2 separate regions of the Homo sapiens genome follow, and region 2 is linked to region 1. Evidence: fine-mapped expression QTL. A gene starts in region 1. The other region holds a variant in brackets. All regions are shown on one strand. Distances are from middle to middle.

Region 1 (2,913 bases):
TCATTCAAGATAGCTGACAACCTAAAAAGAAACTGCAAAATGTTATGAAAAATTTAAAGCTTATCTAATGCCCTAAAATAACCTCAAAATTCACAGCTATAGTAAAGCTAACTGTAATAAACACCAGCTTAAAAAAATCAAACTTAATAAATAAGCCTATTTATAGATTGTAAACGTTTGTTGAACGATTATTTGAATTGTTGAAATCATTAAAGGTTTCAAAGAGATCCTCATCCCCCAAATGTTAAGTTTTAAATAAACTTAACGAAATAATTGTGTATGTATACTGTAAAGCCCTACACCATATAACCTAAAAGCAGGTTACTTTATTTACGCCTCTTTTACTAGCAATTAAACTGAAAACCTTGAGTGTGAATGTTGTAAGAGATCAAAGTTTTCAAGACTTGCCCTAGGAAAACACCAGTTTCTCCCACCATTTGCCCCTTTTAAGTGTTTAAAACCATCTCAGAGAAAATAGTGAGACCTCGTATCTTTTTTTGTGTATTAAAATCTTTTACACTTAAAACTCAGAAATCAAGTGCCTCAACCATTACAGCAACTCTTTATTAATGCACTTTGTGTGGCTCTGGGTGTTATACTCCACAAATAAGGAACCAACTTCTAATTGTGAAGCGAGATATCAAAGTCCTAGAAAGAACAAGCTCTCCTAACCAACTAGAAGGTTCCAGGAAAATGCAATTAAACAGGAAGCAATGAAGTTAAAAGCTAATGGAAACTGTTAACTAGGCTGAGTGTTGCTCACATGTAGGGAGTCGGTCACCCGCTTCCTCAGCGTACATGTTACAGGGCTGTGAGCGAACACTCACGCGTGGACCTGCATACATCCAACTCCAAAGCTCTGAGGCGTGAAGCCCAACTCCAAGGGCGCTCCACACGGTCCCTGTTCCAGGAAAACTGAATACAGCTGCTCGTGCCACTTGGCCCGCAAGACGGGAGGCGAGTCTGAGGCCCACTGCGTCCTCCAGAAACTACCCTTGCAAGGGCTGTTTCAGAGCCCCCCACCCACAGCCCAGCAGACCCCAAAAGCTTCTGGGGAAACTCAACCCCACCCGCTGCTACGCCCCCTTCCCTCGCTCCCACCCGAGGATCAGCTCCCCCGGATAGGGACGACTTCCCCTTCCAACAGTGCATCAGAGGGCTCGTCAGGCCTCACCCACCTTGCACTCGTCGCTCTTTTTTTCTTCGTCGCAGAAGTTGACGGGCGCCAGGCCGGGCAGGTAGAAAGCGCCGCTCCGGCGCGGGCCAGGAACCGCCCCCAGCAGGAGCAGCGACAGCAGCAACAGCCGCGGCCACCGAGGTGGAGACAACACCGGCAGCCTCGCGCTCATGATAGTTGTTTCGGGGAAAGGGCAATCAAACCTAGGGGGTCAAGAGGGAAGGAGGGGTGGGGAGTCTCGGAGACGACTACAAGGCCGCCAGAGATAAAGGAAGCCGGCCCCCAGAAGGCTAGTTCCGGTTGCGCTAGGAGACACCCCGGGTCCCGCAACAGAAACCGAAGCGGACCGCAACAGAGCATGCGCACCGCCGTCTGCACATGCTCAGTGAGAACGGTCGCAGGCACCAGGAGGAGTTTCCGGGAGGGAGCGGGGGCGAAATCCACTTTCCGGGTTTTCCGCGCGCCAGCTGAGGTGGTTGCTGGGAGAGGTGGTTGCTGGGAGAGCTGTTCCGGCGCTCACGTTCCAATTCCAAATTACAAATTCCGATCTAGAGCTCCCACGCTTGGGGGCTGTGGAGCGCTCGCCAGCCGCTCCCCGTTTGCTGCTGGGTCTTACGAAGTTCTCATATCCATCATACAGTTTCTTTGTCACACTGTCCGCGGCACGCCAGTCCCTATGACAGAAAGCACCTGCGGTCTGTCTGGAGGCGGAGTTGGTGGCGGAGAGAAAAAGTTCTGGAGACACCTGGTTGGGAGCAGGCTAAGGAAACAAATGGGGAGGAATTAGCCACAAATCCTCAAATAGACAGCTACTCAAAGGCATCTTCACGGACAATTTCCAAGCATTGGATGCAGTGGTGCATTCTTGCATTGGGCAGTGATTGTGTGCACACATCTCTTTAAGGGAGAGTGGAAATGGGGTGAGGAGGAAAATGGGAGTAGGATAGAGTGTAGCGTTGACATTTATTTTCTTTAAAGGAAGACCCGAGCATACCTGAGAGCTCAGTGAAGAAAGTAGTTCTGGCGAATCGGATTAATATGGTATGATCAGCCTTTAGCAAGATTCTATCACTTTTCCCACTGATGATGTGAGACGGTGTCCGCGTGTGTAAGTGCACACACGTGTGTGTGTGTGTGTGTTGCATCTTCTGAGTATTTTTCAAGGAGAAGCTTTTTAGTGATCTGAAAAAGTCAATTCAGTTAGCCACTAGAGTTCAATCAAAAACTTCGGAAGAGTGCATCATCTTAAAGTACATAAGAGAGAATCATGACCTCCAGCTCAGAATTCAAGAATAGGCAGGTTTGTGAAATAGTAAGCTCAGAAAGTTGAGGGCCAGTGAACTCCTATTTCAAGTTCTTGCGGGTGTTTGTACTTTTTTCCCAGGTAAGGTTTATAACTTTCATCAGATTTTCAAAGGGACCTAGGACCCTGCAAATTGATCCATATAGTGGGGTAGCCAAGTTAATCAAGAGAACTGGGAAGTAGAAAAGAACGTTCATCTTAAGGTTGTTGTGAAGATTAAATCAAAAATGGAGGGAAAGTGCTGAGCACATAGCTTGGCCCAAGGAATGGCACTTTTTTTTTTTTTTTTGATAACAAAAACTAATCTGGTAGGGCCTGAGCAGAAAATTGTGCCTAGGTGGCTTCCCTTTCATGTCCTCTCCCTCAAATAAATCAACATATTCGCTGAACTTTGGGATAGGGAAAAATTGTAAAATATTCTGTATTTGGAAGT
Region 2 (2,913 bases), 69 kb before region 1:
ACAGATATATTGGGCAGGAGGTTGACGAAGGGGGTGGATGGCTCTGGGATGACGAAAGCTAACCCAGACACGCATTGCTGCATCAAGTCGTCACTGTCTGCCAGCACGTTTGCCAGAGTAGGAAGGGATTTTTGCTGGGGATACTTTGTGCAATTCCAGCAACAACCAACTCACATTTCTCCAGCATGAAGTGAATCCATTACACCCAGGTGTTCCCAGTCCTTCCCATCTGGGTTACTGATGTCCAGAAGAAGATTCTGCCACTTCAATTCTGTGGCATCATCAGTGTGTCAGCATGTCTCCTCTCCTCAAGGGGCTGGCAAAGTTCTTCCAAGTCACATCATCCAGGGCAGAGTAGTGGCAAGTCTGGAAGGTGGCTCTGGGTCCTGGCGGTGGTGGCCACCTGCGAGGGGACCTGTAGTGTGGCTGTGGCCCCGTGGCTGTGTCTTGGGATGAGTTCTAAGTCCCCAGCTCCTTTCCCTTGGCACTGCTGAAGCAGGAAGCCAGCAGGAGTGCCCTGCAGTGTGGCTCATGCCAGTGTGGCTCGTATCAGCTTAGAGCGGGCTATGAGCCGTTCCCAGTCAACAGAGTCACTGCCTCGGTTCACCACTGTCTATGAAATGGTCCTAGTCAACTGTGGCACAATTTGTCTGGCTTTAGCATGAGCCAGAGGAGCCTTGTTCTCTCTGACCTGGACAGCCTATGATTTTCTTTGATAATAATGCTAACCCTAAAACATTTAGCGTATTTTTAAAACCTGATTTAAATTTGAATGTATACAATGTCATTAATTGTAAGCTATCAGTAAAAACCTTTTAAAAAGTGGACTCTAATCCTTAAATATATCATTTCCAACTTATATCTCATATTTAACTCTTTTCAGAGAAATTAATGACCTGTGACCTATTATAGTGCTATTTATTTATCATGGTCAACACCACTCACGTGGCCTAGACCACTTTTGGCTAAAAATATCCGAAGGAATTAACAGGACTTTTTAGAGCCATGCTTTCTTCTTCACTAAATAAAGGAATTAATTATATTATTTATTTATTTATTTTTTGAGATGGAGTTTCGCTCTGTCATCCAGGCTGGAGTGCAGTGGCGCGATCCTGGCTCATTGCAACCTCTGCCTCCTGGGTTCAAGAGATTCTCTTTCCTCAGCCTTCCAAGTAGCCGGGATTACAGGAACCCACCAACATGCCCGGCTAGTTTTTGTATTTTTAATAGAGACAGGGTTTCACCATGTGGGCCAGGCTGGTCTCAAATTCCTGACCTCAGGTGATCCACTCGCCTCAACCTCCCAAAGTGCTGGAATTACGGGTGTAAGCCACCGTGCCCAGCCAAAGAATTCATTATTAATGAGAATGTCAAATAATCATTAGGTCAAAAAATAAAAGGGAAAAAAGAATCAAATTTGAGCATGTGTATATGAAGTTCAAGAGAGTGAGGTGAAGAAATCCAGTGGAGGCCGGGTGCGGTGGCTCA[C/T]GCCTGTAATCCCAGCACTTTGGGAGGCTGAGGTGGGTGGATCACGAGGTCAGGAGATCAGGACCATCCTGGCTAACATGGTGAAACCTCATCTCTACTAAAAATACAAAAATTATTTAGGCATGGTGGCGCTCGCCTGTAGTCCCAGCTACTTGGGAGGCTGAGGCAGGAGAATGGCGTGAACCCAGGAGGCGGAGCTCGCAGTGAGCCGAGATCGCACCACTGCACTCCAGCCCAGGCGACAGATCGAGACTCCATCTCAAAAAAAAAAAAAAAAAAATTCCAGTGGAATTCCAAAAGCAAGAGAATGTGAAGAAACAGTGATTTTTAGTGTTTAGACTTCAAATTACATAGTAAAGGAGAGAACAAATCAGTCATAGGAAACAGGTTTGGTTCCATCAAAATATCTGAGAAAGAAAAGCATGATTTTCTACATATAGAACCTTGTAGGCAGAGAAATTATGGTCACCATCTACTTGGGCTATAGAACACAAAATACAAATATGAAAAAACTTTTTTTTTTTTGAGACGGAGTCTTGGAGTCTCGTATCGTTACTCAGGCTGGAGTGCAGTGGCGCGATCTCAGCTCACTGCAACCTCTGCCTCCTGGGTTCAAGCGATTCTCCTGTCTCAGCCTCCTGAGTAGCTGGGACTACAGGCATGCACCACCATACCCAGCTAATTTTTGTACTTTTTAATAGAGATGGGGTTTCACCGTACTGGCCAGGCTGGTCTTGAACTCCTGACCTCGTGATCCACCCAGCTCAGCCTCCCAAAGTGCTAGGATTACAGGCATGAGCCACTGTGCCCAGCCAGAAAAAACATTTTCTTAATGACATATATTTACATATTAATGAAGCCCCAGAATGTCCTGCTATTCATAGGGAGAGACCTTTCTTTCTGAGGGTTTTAAAAGGTTTAAAAAACCTTTCCCAACAGCTGAGCTTTTTTTTTTTTTTTTTTGGAGGCAGGGTCTCACTCTGTTGCCCAGGTTGGAGTACAGTGGTACAATCATGGCTCACTGCAGCCTTAACTTCCTGGGTTCAAGTGATCCTCCTGTCTCAGACTCCTGTGTAGCTGGGACCACAGGCACGTGCAACCATGCCAATTTTTTTTTTTTTTTTTTGTAGAGATGGGGGTCTCATTTTGTTGCCCAGGATGGTCTCGAACTCTTGGACTCAAGCAATCAATCCTCCTACCTCAGCCTCCCAAAGTGCTAGGATTACAGGCATGAGCCATTGCATCCACCCCACCAACCCTGCTTTTTTTTTTTTTTTTTTTCCTGAGCAGTTTTGGTTATATCAAAAGCAAGACTTCTCAAATAAAACAATGATCTGATTACAGAACACAAACCAAGCCCAGGAAAAAACCCTTTATCCTCTATGGGGTATAATTCTCCATTTGCTTGCAGAGGCCTTGTCATGG

Evidence for each region. PIP is the estimated chance that this variant, and not a neighbour inherited with it, causes the effect.
Region 2: its variant is the best candidate, but not a certain one, in a credible set for the expression of TM9SF2 in whole blood (TOPMed, PIP 0.54).

Annotation. Positions count from the first base shown.
Region 1 is chr13:99,500,043-99,502,955 of GRCh38, reverse strand. TM9SF2 (transmembrane 9 superfamily member 2) reads right to left here and starts at 1,484. Exons shown (of 17, transcript NM_004800.3): 1 at 1,179-1,484. The coding sequence starts at 1,349. LINC00449 (long intergenic non-protein coding RNA 449) reads left to right here and starts at 1,893. Exons shown (of 2, transcript NR_133664.1): 1 at 1,893-2,561. RefSeq lists enhancers at 1,104-1,692, 1,599-1,778.
Region 2 is chr13:99,569,485-99,572,397 of GRCh38, reverse strand. No RefSeq gene overlaps it. Among named protein-coding and RNA genes, the nearest start is that of LINC01039, 6.2 kb to the left of the region's middle. The variant C/T (reference allele first, on the strand shown) is at 1,489.